Linked DNA regions of Homo sapiens: region 2 is linked to region 1. The links come from fine-mapping of genetic effects on gene expression. Tissue or cell type: testis. Region 1 holds a variant in brackets; the other region holds the start of a gene. All regions are shown on one strand. Distances are from middle to middle.

Region 1 (8,108 bases):
ATGTAGGCATTTAGGGTTATGAACTTTCCTCTTGGCACTGTCTTTGCTGTATCCCAGAGGTTTTGGTAGCTTGTGTCAATATTGTCATTCAGTTCGAATAATTTTTTAATTTCCATCTTGATTTTGTTTTTGACCCAATGCTCATTCAGGACCAAGTTATTTAATTTCCATGTATGTACATCATTTTGAAGGTTCCTTTTAGAGTTGATTTCGTTTTATTCCACTGTGGTCTGGGAGAGTGCTTGATATAATTTCAATTTTCTTAAATTTATTGAGGCTCGTTTTATGGCCTATTGTATGGTCTATTTTGGAGGACGTTCCATGTGCTGTTGAATAAAATGTGTATTCTGCAGTTTTGGGATGAAATGTTCTATATATATCTGTTAAGTCTATTTCTTCCAAAGTATAGTTTAAATCCATTTTTTCTTTGTTGACTTTCTGTCTTGATGATCTGTCTAGGGCTGTCAGTGGAGTATTGAAGTCCCCCACGATTATTGTGTTACTGTCTATCTCATTTCTTAGGTCTATTAATAACAGGTTTTTTTGTTTTGTTTTGTTTTGTTTTGTTTTTTTGAGATGGAGTTTTGCTCTTGTTGCCCAGGCTGGAGTGCAATGGCATGATCTCAGCTCACTGCAACCTCCGCCTCCTGGGTTCAAGCGATTCTCCTGCCTCAGCCTCCCGAGCAGCTGGGACTACAGGCATGCACCACCACACCTGGCTAATTTTGTATTTTTAGTAGAGACAAGGGTTCTCCATGTTGGTCAGGCTGGTCTTGAACTCCCGACCTCTGGTGATCTTCCCACCTCAGCCTCCCAAAGCGCTGGGATTACAGGCATGAGCCACCGTGCCCGGCCCATAGTAACTGTTTTATAAATTTGGGAGCTCCAGTGTTTAGTACATATATGTTTAGAATTGTGATATTTCCCTGTTGGACAAGGCCTTTTACCATTATATAATGCCCTCTTTTGTCTCTTTTAGCTGCTGTTGCTTTAAAATTTGTTTTGTCTGATATAAGAATAGCTACCTCTGCTCACTTTTGGTGTCTATGTGCATGAAATGCCTTTCTCCACCCCTTTACTTTATGTGAGTCCTTATGTGTTGTTAGGCCAGCATCACCCTAATATCAAAACCAGCAAAGGACATACCAAAAAAGAACATTACAGACCAATATTTTTGATGAACACAGATGCTAAAATCCTCAACAAAATACTAGCTAACCAGTTGCAACAACATACCAAAAAGATAATCCACCATGATCAAGTAAGTTTCGTACCAGGGATGCAGAAAAGCAGCAGATGGTTTGTGAGTTCTTATCTATTCTGCAATTCTGTAGAAAAGTGGAGCATTTAGGCCATTTACATTCAATGTTAGTATTGAAATTTGAGGTACCATTGCATTCATCATGCTCTTTGTTGCCTGCGTACTTTGGTTTGTTTTTTGATTTTGCTCTTTAACTTGTATTTTTGTTTTATAGGTCCTGTGTGATTTATGCTTTAAAGAGATTCTGTTTTGATGTGTTTCCAGGATTTCTTTCAAGATTTAGAGCTCCTTTAAACAGTTCTTGTAGCAGTGCCTTGGTAATGGCAAATTCTCTCAGTATTTGTTTGTCTGAAAACGACTGTATCTTTCCTTCATATGTGATGCTTAGTTTCACTGGATGCAAAATTCTTGACTGATAATTGTTTTGTTTGAGGAGGCTGAAGATAGGGCCCCAACCCCTTCTAGCTTGTAGGGTCTCTGCTGAGAAATCTGCTATTAATCTGATAGGTTTTCCTTATAGGTTACCTGGTGCTTCTGTCTCACAGCTCTTAAGATTCTTTCCTTGGTCTTAACTTTGTATAACCTGACGACAATGTGCCTAGGTGAATATCTTTTTGTATCCATCGCCCAGGCTGGAGTGCAGTGGCGCAATTTTGGCTCACTGCAACCTCTGCCTCCCAGGTTCAAGCAATTCTCCTGCCTCAGCCTCCCAAGGAGCTGGGATTACAGGCTCCTGCCACCACACCCAGCTAATTTTTTTTTTTTGTATTTTTAGTAGAGACAGGGTTTTGCCATGTTGGCCAGCCTGGTCTCAAACTCCTGACCTCAGGTGATCCACCTGCCTCGGCCTCCCAAAGTGCTAGGATTACAGGCGTGAGCCCCCGCACCCGAGCCCTGATATTAATTTTTAAATTAAAAGACTTTATTTTTAAAAGCAGTTTGAGGTTTACAGAAAAACTGAGCAGAAAGTACAGTCTCTATATACCCCCTACTCCCTGCCCCCAGTTTTCCCTGTTATTAACATTTGTGTTAATGTGGCATATTTGTTACAATCAGTGAATCAATATTGATAAATTAAAGTCCATATGTTAGTGTTCACTCTGTGTGTTATACAGTTCTATGGGTTTTGCCAAATGTATTAATATGTCATGTATCCATCATTACAGTATCATCCAGCATAATTTCACTGTCCTGAAAATGCCCTGTGCTCCACTTATTCATCTTTTCCCCACTTGCTATCACCACACCAAAGCCCTCACAACCACTTATCTTTTTAATATATCCATAGTTTTGCCTTTTGCAGAACATCATATCATTAGAATCACAATAATATGTGGCTTTTCAGACTGGTTTCTTTCACTCAGCAACATGCAGTTAAGGGTCTTCCGGGTCTTTTGTGGCTTGACAGCTCATTTCTTTTTATCACTGAATAATATTGCATTGTATAGATATACCACAGTTTTTTTTAAATTTACTCATCATTAAAGGACATCTTGATTACTTCTAATTTCTGGCAATAATGAATAAAGTTGATACAAAAACTTTTGTGTAGGATTTTGTGTGGACATATGTTTTCAACTCATTGAGGTAAATGCCTAAGGCATATTTAGTTTTGTAAGAAACTGCTAAACTATCTTCCAAAGTATCTGTACCATTTTGCATTCCCACCAGCTATGAAAGAGTTTCTGTTCTACATCTTCACAAACATTGGTGTTATCAGTGTTTTGGATTTTAGCCATTCTAATTGGTGTGGAGTGGTATCTCATTGTTGTTTTAATTTTGCAATTCCCTAATGACATATATGTTGAGCATCTTTTCATATGCATATTTACCATCTGTATATCTTCTTTGGGCATATGTCCATTCAGATCTTTTGCACATCTTTTCATTGGGTTGCTCATTTTCTTATTGAGTTTTAAGAGTTCTTCATATATTTTTGATAACAGTCCTTTATCAGATATGTCTTCTGCAAATATTTTCTCCCAGTCTTTGTCGTGTCTTTTCATTTACTTAACAGTGTCTTTCATAAAACAGAAGGTTTTAACTTTGATGAAGTCTAACTTGCCAATTTTTTCTTTCATGGATTGTGCTTTGTGTGTTGTATCTAAAAACTCATTGCCAAACACAAGGTCACCTCTATGTTCTCCTATGTTATCTTCTAGAAGCTTTGTAGTTTTCTGTTTTACATTTATAGGGGCTGTGAGAAGGTGACAGAGGTTACATGAGGTAATAAGGATAGGGCCTTAGTTGAATAAGGCTAGTGCCCTTATAAGAGGAAGAGACGCCAGTTTTCTCTCTCTCTACCATACGAAGACACAGCAAGAAAGTGGCCATCTACAAGTCAAGAAGTGGGCCATCACCAGAAACCAAATTACTGGCACCTTGATCTTAAACTTCCCAGCTTCCAAAACTGTGAGAAATAAATTTCTGCTGTTTAAGCCATGCAACCTACAGTATAAGTTATAGCAGCCCAAGCAGACTAAGACAGAACCCTTAGCATATTAATCATAGTTACTTTAAATCTCTGGTCCCATAATTCCAAAATATCTGCCACATCTGAGTCTGGTTCTAGTGCTTGCTTTGTTTCTTCAAGACTGTGGTTTTTTTTCTCTTTTTAGCATATCTTATAATTTTTCTGTTCAAAGCAAGGCATGATGTACTGGGTAAAGGGAACTGAACTGAGGTAGATAGGTGTTTAGAATGAAATTTAGAGGCAACTTAAGAAAGTACTCAAAAAACAAAATTATGGGAGCATGCTAAATGGACACAGGAGCCAGCCTGAAAGAGCTTGCAATGGACAAAGTTGGAACAATTTGAGCAACAAAATAAGTTATTCTTCCTTATAGAGGAATTCTAAATAATTTATATAGATACTTGCCTTCCAGGAAGTGGCACTTAATCCCCATCAAACCCTCATAAGTGTGGGCTGGACTTGGTAACTTCCTTCCAAAAAATAGAGTATGGAAAAGGGGTGAAGTAACTTCATAGTGGAAAAACCTGGCAAACACTACCTTGGTTAGCTGAGCAAAGCCTTGATATGGTGTGATGAGAATGGAATATTACCTTTGTGATCTTTCTCTCAAACACTTATAATCCCATTCTAATCATGAGGAAAGCGTAAGACAAATCCCAATTGAGGGACATTCTACAAAATACCTGAGGAGTACTCCTCAATAGGTCATCAAAACAAGTCTTAGAAACTGTCACAGTCAAGAAGAAACTAAGGAAAAATGACAACTAAATGCAATGTGGTATCATGGACTGGCTCCTAGAACAGAAAAAGTCAGTATATAAAAACTAAGAAAATCTGAATAAAGTATGGACTTTAGTGATAATAATGTATCAATATTGGTTTATTACTTGTAGCAAATGTACCATACTAATCTAAGATGATAATAAAAACAATAACTCTGTGTAGGGCCAAAGGGAGGGAAGTGGGCTGATACGGGAA[C/G]TCTCCGCACTATCTTAGCAACTTTTTGGCAAATCTAAAATTACTCCAAGATACTAAGCTTCTTTTTTAAAAAAAATCACAAAACCTGAAAAATTTTAAAGAAATAAAAATTTAAAAATTAAAAAGAGTCAAATCCCAGCTGTATTTTTATTAATTATGTAATATTGTACAAGTCACTCTCTGAGCTTTGGTGTCCCTGTTTATAAAAGTGATAGAATACATTTTTGAGTGACATCTGAAAGATAGCAGAGTAGGAAGCTCCAGGCCCTCCTTTCCCCATGTAATCTGTGAAAGGAAATTCAATTTCGGGACGCCAAACTCATTTAGCGAAAGGGAAAAGTCAAAGTGGGAACTGGGTCATGCAAACCTGCCTCCCACTTTTGGGTCCTCAATAAGATGGCTACAAGATGAAAAGCTACATGCCTCCGCCATATTTTGCCCACAAGGAAATTCCTAGTGAGTTGTTAAAATTTCACCGTAGCAATGCAAATTGATAGCTTATCTTTACAGGTGCAGTCGCCCCCGGCGCACTAGACATAAATGCACATCTGAGTGTTCCCCTGCCCCATTTTGTCCATGTTATCTTATGTAAAATGCATATTCCCCACATTTTTCCTCTGCCTCTTTTATGTCATCTTATTAATGCAGATTCCCTGAGCCAGACAAAGGCATGAATGACTATTTTTCCCTACCCTCCTCTTACATGAAAATTGTGTACTTCTCAGTATCGCACCCTTTCCCCTTTAAATTTTGAGCCCTCAAAATCATCTTCGGAGACAGGCATAGACCTGTCTCCTGAGTGCATCCTTAACTTTGGCAAATAAATCCCCTAAAATGATTGAGACTTGTCATTTTTCTCAATTGACATCTGGTAACCACGAAGGGATCCTGAGTGAAAGTGACCCAGCCTGCAGTAGCTCACCTCTCAGTGCTTGGCACCGGCTTGGTCACCTTATAGCCCAAACTGAGAGGACAATTTGCCAAAGTCGAGGACCTCTTTCCAGGGATCTCTGATCTTCCAACATTTTCCAGTTGGGGGTCTGAAGTTTATTTGCTGTTAAAAACAAAACAAAACAACAAAAACAACAAAAATTCCTTTTTTTGTAGGCGTTTCCACTCACTTCCATCAAGGAAGGCGAGCCTGTCTGCTTCTGCATATGCAGAGAGCAATCTTCAGCTTGGGCCCCCATCACTAGGTAAGAAACTGGTTTGGAATTCTGTCTTGCAAATTCTTTTAAACGACTAGAATTAGCACTAACAACCAGCTGGTGTTAATTTCCTGCTTACCCTTAGAGCGCTCAGAAATCATATAATTTGCGTGATCATTGTTAGTTTTGTTTAATTGTTTTGTTTCTGGGTTTGTGTGTGTGTGTGTGTGTGTGTATATATATCTGTGTGTGTGTGTGTGTGTGTGTGTGTGTGTGTGTGTATGTGTGTGTGTGTGTGTTTTGGTCCTTTCCCCTATCGGATTTGACCAATTCTGAACCTTCAAGCTCATGAGTGTGAAATTTTCCACTCTGAAGAAACAGAACACATTGCTCCCCTCAGCCCTTTGGGGCATTCTCAGGCGACTGAGAATCACATGAGGGTTTCTGGGAGAAATGCTCCCTAAGACATGCAGCAGCTCTAAATAGGTTTCCCCCTCAAAAGAACATACTTAGGGTCTAATCTCAGCCAGCAGATGCATATAAGGAACTGACCCCTCCCAAACTTTGAGCCCCTGACACACTGTGCCAGGTGGCCACAACGCTGGTGGACCAAACTGGTTCAGGGTGTAATGGCCCTGTGAAAAGCTAGGTTTGCAAGCAGCACATTTTGGGTCCAACACACATCCCAACTTGGTCAAATCCAAAGGGGAACTCTAAATTATAGAGAACAAGGCCTCTAAGACCCCAGCAGTTGCAGAATATAAAGTTCCCCTCTTAGAAACTCCAGCAGGGTATATGCAAAATACTTATGGTGAATCATCATGCAAATATTTAACCAAGCGGACCACTATAACTAAAGCAGATTCTAAGTTACAATGGCCTAAATGGGGATCTTTTGAGATGCCCAAATTAGTGTACCTGTGAACCAGGATGGAGAATGCAGACACAAAAACCAAACAACCAGAATGGGACAGCTATTTTCAGTGGTAGCTGCAAAGTAGCAAAAGTGGGGAAGACCACTGTCACGCGTGTCTGGGTGAAGTGACCACCAAACAGGCTTTGTGTGTGCAACAAGGCTGTTTATTTCACCTGGGTGCAGGTGGGCTGAGTCCGAAAAAGATGTCAGCAAAGGGAGTTAGGGGTGGGGCAGTTTTATAGGATTTGAGTAGGTAGTGTCAGGAGGCCCGACACTCCTGTCTTCTTATATTAATAAGAAAAACAAAACAAGATAGTGGCGAAGTGTTGGGGTGGCAAAAATTTTGGGGGGTGGTATAGAGAGATAATGGGCAATGTTTCTCAGGGCTGCTTCGAGCAGGATTAGGGGCAGCGTGGGAACCTAGAGTGGGAGAGATTAAGCTGAAGGAAGATTTTGTGGTAAGGGGTGATATTGTGGGGTTGTTAGAAGCAATATTTGTTGTACAGAATGATTGGTGATGGCCTGGATACAGTTTTGTATGAATTGAGAAACTAAACAGAAGACACAAGGTCCGAATAAGAGAAGGAGAAAAACAGGTATTAAAGGACTAAGAATTGGGAGGACCCAGGACATCTAATTAGAGTGCCTAAGGGGGTTCAGCGTGATTATTGCTTGGTTGGTCAGTTTTGGGGCTCTATCCTTGAGTTTTTTTATGTTGTCACATACCAGGCCAGATTGATTTAGGTGAAAACAACACTCTTCATTTAAAAATATAGAGTCCCCTTTTTTTAAGCAGTGAGTAAGCGGAAGTCTCGGTGATTTTGGAGGAAATAGAAATGCAAAGCCAGCAATTGTTTGTTAAAGAAGGATTAGAAACGGCTAGGAGAGAGTGAGATTGATAGTGTGGTGGAGATAGCTGGGGAGAGGTAGAGGGTGGCATAAGAATGGGAACGAGAATAAGAGTGAGTAAAAAAGTAAAGAATAGGACTTCATCAGGGTGAAAGTACCGGACTGTGCCTTGCCACTGAAGATCTTTTATCCACTTCAAGAGAGATTTAAGGGTGGTGGTTTGAGATAAAACCAGGAGATACCAGTTATGATGGTTTGGAGGAAAAGTGTAAACTGGGAGTGTAAACAAGGGCAGGGCATTTATGAGTAGTTGAGAATGGTGAATAGGAGTATGACTAGACAGAAGATAGTAGGGATGACAAGTTTTTGGGGTGCAGTCCAAGTTGGGCTGGTGTCTGGAATGAGACTGGGGCCTAATAAAAAGGAGTGTCCATACAGGAGCTCAAATGGGCTGTACCCTGTAGCATCCCGAGGACAGGCCCA
Region 2 (8,108 bases), 300 kb after region 1:
ATTTGCAACTGTTAACAAGTGAGTAAAATATACTGCTGTGGACAAAATTTGGAGCATATTTGTTCCTCTCTACCTGATTTCTCCAGAATTTGGAAACTATCTGTGAGTATTCTCAATTTATGGCAGTATAGTTAATTGCATAAATTCAATAAGAATTTGTTTTCTTTTGTAACAGGACACAATTGGAGAAATTGGTTACTTTACCAAGGCTTTGACTGGAATGGCATGCTTCCTTTAAATAATCAAAGTTGACTTATAGAGCAAATTAAAGCCCATTGAGGCATCTGGCCTCATACCTTATCCACACAGAGTCCCTGTGCAAGGTTCCTGTCCTGTGGTAAGTAAAGAATGTCACTTTCTAACAGGCCCAGGAACCCCAAGTTATCTTGGGACCTCAAGAGGAGAGGAATTTGCCCAACTCATAGGTATTTGAGGGTGCAAACCCACGGCTGGGCTCGGCTTTTAAAACATCTTATCTGAGATTCTTCATGGAACAGAGTTCTAGCAAAGCCAATTAAAAAACCCTAAGTGAAAAATATTCTTGCTGCACTTTATGCAAATAATCAGGCCACATACAGTAAGACTAAAGCTTATTTTGTAAACAAATCAGTTCTATCATGTTGTTTTTAATAAAAATGGGGACTGGAGAGAGAAAAATTATGCTTCAAAAAACTATAGTACACTGTTGTTAGCTGTTCTTGAGTTTTTTTCTGCAGTTTAGACTAAATTCTAAATTGTTTGTGGGTTAGAAGTCCCCAAACTAATGCTTTCAAATCTCTGCTTTTAAAATTGGGAATTGTACTCCTCATCCTAGGACTCATTATTTACCTTATAAGGTAAAATAGGCTGTTCACTTAAACACTGTAGTAAAACTATAGATGAGAGTACTAATGTTTTTGCCATACAAGCCTTGGAAGCTCAACCAGGCCGGCATGAGTATGCTCAGACAATTAATTGTAAAGCAGTTCCACTCTTCTCACCTTGGGGTTCACTCCCAATCCCACTACATCCCCTGTCAGCAGGAAGAGGCCAGAGTGATTGATGGCCTTTTCCCATCTTCATAGCCTATACCTTAAGATTAAGGTATTATAAAACCCAAAGGGAGGGATTGAAACCGCCTTTGTAAAATTATGACTGAGAGAGTGAAAGAGATCTAACTTAGCTGACTCCATCTTGCTTCTAACCTCCAAGCTGTTCTTGTTCATTCCTGGGGGTAGGCTGAACTAACTTCGGGAGAAATGTAGTTTATAGTTTATAGTTTAAACAAATATGGTAACAGCCCTTTCCCAAAGCAGACCTCCTTCCTGCCTGGCGACTAGATTGCCTTTGTAGGACTAACATTAGCCACAAGATCAGAAATTATGGTTTAGGGGTCATGCAGCTGGAGGCTATAAGATTCTGAGCCTCCCTAAACTGCTCCAAAGATCAGTGTTTGAGATATTTTGTAGACCCTGCACTTGATAAATCAGCTGGCACCACCCAGATCAATAAACTGGCTCATGTGATCTTATGGCCCCCACCCAGGAACTGACTCAGCACAAGAAAACAGCTTTGACTCCCTATGATTTCATCCTTGACCAATCAGCACTCCTGGCTCACTGGCTTTCCCCGACCTACCAAGTTATCCTTAAAAACTCTGCTCCCCGGCCAGGCATGGTGGCTCACACCTGTAATCCCAGCACTTTGGGAGGCCGAGGCGGGCAAATCACCTGAGGTTAGGAGTTCGAGACCAGCCTGGCCAATATGGTGAAACCCTGTCTCTACTAAAAATACAAAAATTATCCAGGTGTGGTGGCATATGCCTGTAATCCCAGCTACTGGGGAGGCTGAGGCAGGAAAATCACTTGAACCCAGGAGGTGGAGGTTGCAGCAAGCCTAGATTGCACCACTGCACTCCAGCCTGAGCGACAGAGCAAGACTTTGTCTCAAAAAAGCACAACAAAACAAGCAAACAAAAAACTTTGCTCCCCAAATGGTCAGGGAGACTGATTTGAGTAATAAAACTCTGGTCTCCCGCATGTGGGCTCTGCGTGAATTACTCTTTCTCTGTTGCAATTCCCCTGTCTTGATGAATGGGCTCTGTCTAGGCAGCGGGCAAGGTGAACCCCTTGGGAGGTTACAGTTTCACCATGCTGGTCAGGCTGGTCTTGAACTCCTGACTTCAGGTGATCTGCCTGCCTCGGCCTCCCAAATTGCTGAGATTATAGGCGTGAGCCACCACGCCTGGCCATGCATCACATTTTTATTTGTAAAAGTAAAAACCATGGAAACAACATCAATATCTAGCAATAGGATGCAAAATGAATGAGAACTATAGTACATTCAAGTGATGCTAAAGTTTTATACAATCATTAAAAATGATTGTTTAGGGCTGAGCATGGTGGCTCATGCCTGTAATCCCAATGCTTTGGCAGGCCAAGGCAGGAGGATCGCTGGAGCCCAGGAGTTCAAGACCAGCCTGGTTGACATAAGGTAGCCCCATGTCTACAGAAAATAAAAAATAAATTACCCGGGTGTGGTGACACGTGCCTGTAGTCCCAGCTACTTGAGAGACTTGTAGTCCCAGCTACAAGAGAGAGCCTCTCACTTGAGCCCACGAGGTTGAGGTTGCAGAGGGAGACCCTCTGCAGGGTCTCAAAAAAAAAAAAAATCGTGTAGGGCTGGGCTCCGTGGCTCATGCCTGTAATCGCAACACTCTGGGAGGCCGAGGCGGAAGGATCCCTTGAATCCAGGAGTTAGAAATCAGCCTGGACAACATCACAAGGCTCTGACTCCACAAAAAATAAAAAAATTAGCCAGGCATGGCGGCATGTGCCTGTGATCCCAGCTACTCCGGAGGCTGAGATGGAGGATCACTTGAGTGAGACTTTGTCTCTAAACAAAACAAAACTCTGTGTGTGTGTGCGTGAGCATTTACAGTGCTAAACAACTTTAAGTACCACACTAATAGTGAAAAATATTACAGGAGAGGCAGCAGAGCAATTGTTAAGAGCCTGGGCCCTAGAAATGACTGCCTAGGTTTGAGGCCTGGCTCTCCACTTACTAGCTGTATACTCCTGGGCAAGTTACCTACCTTCCCAGCCCCTCAATGTGCCCATTCATAGCATGGGGACTCATACCTAGTCCATAGTGTTGCTGTAAAGATTAAATTAGTTAATACAAGTAGAGGGCAGCGTCTAGCATCTAGTAAACAGTTGACAATTATTGGTTATTGTTATAGAAAATTGGAGGAGGGAGAAATCATATCTAACTGACAATGGATCAGGAAAGGCTTTATAGAGGAGGTGACATTAAAGAAAAGGTTTAATGCTAATGAAGAGTGATGGTGGGGGGCGGGGTCAAAAGATAGGGAGTTAAAGGTAGAGGAGGTGGTAAGGCGTAGGTTGTGTGAGGCCGTGAGTAGATAGATGAGTGGTGGCGTGTGGCAGTGGGAGCCATTGAAAACTAAATCTCCAAAGAGAGACAGGGGTCAAAATGTGGAGGGCCTTGAATTCCAAATTTAAAACTGGAGTTAACCACTGGCTATGAGAGTCATTAAAGATTTCTGAGCAAGAGAAAGAGGAAGCCTTCTTTGGCAGCATTGAAGGCTGACAAATTTGCAGTTTTATCCTTGAGTGTTACGAACTTCAGAAACAACTCTCTGAGGGCTAATATTTTGATTTAGGAAAAGGAAAGGGGGACACAAAGGAAGAGATGGAAAAAGGGAGTGAATAACTGAAGGATGATAAGTGGGAGGGGGAGATGAAAAGTGAGCCCGGTGGGAAGGTGGCAGCAAAGCCTGTCTTCCCTAATTCCTCATTCCTGGGGTCACTTGGTGACTGAACTCATACATAACCTCCCTTCTCCCCATTTAAGATTTGAAGTTTCCGTCTTTCCTTTAGGGCTTCATTTAACTTCGAGACTGTCCTTTTGGCCTGTGAGCACACGTAGGGCATTAGGACCCAGCGTTTGTTGTAGTGAGAGTGGTTGAATCTCGATCTCTCAATTTTTCTCTCGAGCTCCCTCCTCTCCCTTTGTCATTCTAGCTGCCTGCTGCCTCCGCAGCGTCCCCCCAGCTCTCCCTGTGCTAACTGCCTGCACCTTGGACAGAGCGGGTGCGCAAATCAGAAGGATTAGTTGGGACCTGCCTTGGCGACCCCATGGCATCCCCCAGAACCGTAACTATTGTGGCCCTCTCAGTGGCCCTGGGACTCTTCTTTGTTTTCATGGGGACTATCAAGCTGACCCCCAGGCTCAGCAAGGATGCCTACAGTGAGATGGTAAGTGAAGCAAACGGGTGATGAGGAGCGCACTCCCATGGGATTGCGAGGACCTCTCCCCTTTTTTCCTTCTCAGTTTCTGGTCCCACCCCCTTAGCCCCTATCCCCACCTGGACCCTCCGTTCTCAACAACTTTGCAGCTCGGAAGGAGCAGCTGGGCAAGAGCGATTTCTTTTGTGGGCTATGCTGTTCTGGAGCCACTGAATGCCAGTTGGGGGAGGGGTTGCGCAGCGAATACCCCCCATCCCAAGTAAACCAGAAGGCTGAGACCTGCGTAGCACCTGTCATTGGCAGGAGCCCTTCCCTCCTTCCAGCACACACCCAAAGTCCGGGCAACCAGTATACAAGTCTGATTCCCTCCCTGTGAGCTAAGAGTTTAGCAAGCGGAGAGTTTATTTATTTTAGAGCAGAACAAAAGGGAAAGAGGAAAAGAGCTGGGAAAAATGGGCTACTAAAACAAGCAATTTTTAGGGGCTGACTGGTATTCCTCATCCCAGGCAGACAGCTGATAGTATTCCTCCAGCCACCTGGGTATGTATCTGGATCCTTGAGACAAAGCATTCTTGGCCCAAATAAAGGTCACTAAGCTCTTGTTTCTTCCCCTTCTCTCAAGGGAGAGCTAGATGTTTTGTTTTATTTTGTTTTGTGTGTGGGGTAATCTACAAAATCTGCAAAGTCTGCTTTTTCTCTCCCGCAAACAGTCCGTAATCCCCACCTTGCCTTCTGTGGATGACCAGAGCCAGGCCCTCTGCAGGTTTTCCCCTCTGCAGAGTTGGAATCAATCACGGAAGGTGACTGGCCAAAACATCTCCTCTGCAACCTGGGGGCTGGGCTGCTTTCCCCAGTTGGGCGTGATGAGGACTTGCTCTTATGCTGTGGAGTACTAGGAGATGGCAGGGAATGTTTCCAGCACTTTCGGGTCTGTCCCTTCTTCCCCTGTCACTTTGCCTCTTCTTTTCCCCACCCCAGCTGCTTCTCGTCGCCTTTGCCAGACTTCCAATAATGGGAAGGAGCACATCATTGGGCTCTCAAGGTCAAGAGAGAAAGGAGCTTAGGGGAGGAACAGAAGGGGAAAGAGAAAAGAGGCAAGCCCTTTTAGGGCTGAGGCAGGGAGGAACAGCCTCACACATTGCGAGGAATTCATAGCTCTCCTGAACCCACTGCAGAGCTTTCCAGGGCCCCTTAACGTGAGCTGCAAATGGATGGAGACTGGCAAATTATATTAATAGATGCTCAGAAAATGTTTGCAGGCAGCTCTGGCTTCTGTCTCAGGGTTTAAGCTGGAGCTTTCCATTTCTTCCTCACCGCAGGATCACCCTAGGGTTGGGGAGGGTGACAAGGGCTTAGGTCTAGCCCCAGTGGCAAATCCTTACATGCTTCTCCTTCTCCCTTCCCCTCCTCCCAGCATGTTTGACCAGATGGAATTGAAATCAGGTCAAAATGAGTACCCGAGGCAGCCTGCACTGGGAGAAGAGGGACAGGGTGGGGTAGCAGAAGCCACCAAATGGCTTGAAGAGGTTGGGACAGAGGGACAGGGTGGAGGGGAAATGCCATTATATTTCTGTCTTGGTGGTAGCAGTTTGGTGTTAGATTATGAATAAATGAACATGCTCTTGCTTTACTTTTCATATGTACATATATTTATATATTTGTGTGTGTGCATCATAGGTATGTGTAAGCTTTCCCTAGCCTTAGGGACACACTACCTTTCTTCAGTATACTCCCTGCCCTCCAGACCCTAGTCAGCTGCTTCAGAGGCCCCCCCAAGCTGCACCCTAAGTACAGTGTTAGGCTCTGCAGGCAATCCAACTAAGATGGAGTCACCGGGAAGCTTCCTACCAGCTTAGCAGGAGCTCACAAGGAGGACCAGCCACAAATGGGTTTACAGTATGTTTCTTCCTAGAAATGGAGCTGTCTAGTGCAGCCTAATGAAAGGCAGAAGAAACAAATATGAAGATTTCATATCATACATAGGAACATATTTAAATAGATATAGTGTAACACAGCAATATAGAACCATTGTGTGTGGGTGTGTATGCACACTTCTGCACTTCTGTGCTAGGGGCATCTAGAGGGAATGGAAAGATTGTATCTAACTGAGAAGTAGACGTCACAATAGTTTGAAGAGGATTTTCAGACTGCCCTTTTCCAGGGTCCTCTCCTGCATTGAGCATCGGGCCATAGACTGGAGATTGCTCTCTGGCATAAAGCCTACTGCATAGTGCCTGGGCTTGGCCCAGCTTTATTCTCGTTCCCATAGGAAAGGGAGGGAAATTCAGTTCTAGTACAGAGAAGGTGCTCAATATGTATTTGTGGAGTGGTTGGGTGAATGAATGAGTCATTGTAGCATTGCCTTGGCTTGTTACCACCCTTCAGATTTCTCTGTTTGGCTCTTGATTATGCAGTTCAGGAGCCATTTCTTGCCTCTTAGAGGGACTCTCTAAGAAGCCCCTGTCTCTCAGAGGCAGAGTCTCTCAGAACCCCAACCCTAGATCAGCTGGGATGATTATCTGGGATTTTTTGTTTTCCATTAAGGAGTGGATTCCTCTGCATCGAGGAGGTTAGTCATGTATTGACTGCAGTGGCATTTCTTATAAGATCTCAAAGCGTTGTTGCTGCTGTTGTTGTTTTAAGATTATTTGTTCTTTAGAACATGTCTGTGAGGTAGATTTAGTGTATTCGTTATTTTTATTTTACTGATGGATAAACTAAAGCAGAACAAGTTTAATGACATATCCAAGGCCAGAAAGGTAAGCTGTTGTTGGAGCAGAGATGAGAAACCAAGTCCATGACTCAATACTCCCAATAGAAAGATCATTAATGGTTAAAACTGTTGGTTTTTATGGATGCCAGAACTGACAACCGATTCTTGAGAACACCTGGCACAGTCTTCCTCCTTTTATTGTACCAGTTTAACTGCCCAATGCATATTTTCAATTTTGTTTTACTACAAAATCAATTTTTAAAATTTAGATTTTTGATTTGATTTCTTTTTTCTTTTTCTTTCTTTCTTTTTTTTTTTTTTTTTTTTTTTGCTTTTCTGCCAACTATTTTTTTTCTTGTTTTAAAATCATTTGTGTAATTCTTAGGTGTTATCTTCTCCAGGGAGAATCATTGCTAAAAAACCAAACAAATGACTATGAACTTTTCTCCTGTTTCTACTGGAGAAGCCAGCAAGGGTTAGTGGAAAGAGTGCAGGCTTTATGGTCACACAGGCTTGGGTTCAGGTCCTGCTACTCTTGGTGTCTCAGTTTCTTTATTCTTAAAATGGGGATAAGAATGCCTACCACTTAAGAAACAGACCATCCTAAGGGCGGGGGGTGGGGGGAAGGAGTGCCTACCTTAGAAGGCTGTAAACATTAACTGAGATTATGTATAAAAGTGTCTGGTACAGTGTTTGCTATAGTATGTGTTCAAGAAATGCTTTGGGTGAGGTGATTATGATAAGTAATTCTGTTTTATGGAGTGGTTTCCTAACTGATTTAAATAGCTAGTTTAAGGGATTGAAATCAAGCATATATATATATTTATTTATTTATGAGACGGAGTTTTGCTCTTGTTGCCCAGGCTGGAGTGCAATGGTATGATCTTGGGTCACTGCAACCTCTGCCTCCCGGGTTCAAGCGATTCTCCTGCCTCAGCCTCCGGAGTAGCTGGGATTACAGGTGCGTGCCACCATGCCTGCCTAATTTTTGTATTTTTAGTAGAGATGGGGTTTCACTGTGTTGGTCAGTCTGGTTGCGAACTCCTGACCTCAGGTGATCCACCCATCTCAGCCTCCCAAAGTGCTGGGATTACAGGTGTGAGCCACCACCCCCAGCCTGAAATCAAGCATTTAGAAGAACAAGA

What was found. PIP is the estimated chance that this variant, and not a neighbour inherited with it, causes the effect.
Region 2: TMEM35A starts here. The variant in region 1 is fine-mapped to the expression of TMEM35A in testis (GTEx, PIP above 0.99).

What each region holds. Positions count from the first base shown.
Region 1 is chrX:100,779,736-100,787,843 of GRCh38, forward strand. No RefSeq gene overlaps it. Among named protein-coding and RNA genes, the nearest start is that of CSTF2, 37 kb to the right of the region's middle. The variant C/G (reference allele first, on the strand shown) is at 4,713.
Region 2 is chrX:101,074,864-101,082,971 of GRCh38, forward strand. TMEM35A (transmembrane protein 35A) reads left to right here and starts at 4,016. Exons shown (of 2, transcript NM_021637.3): 1 at 4,016-4,259. The coding sequence starts at 4,140.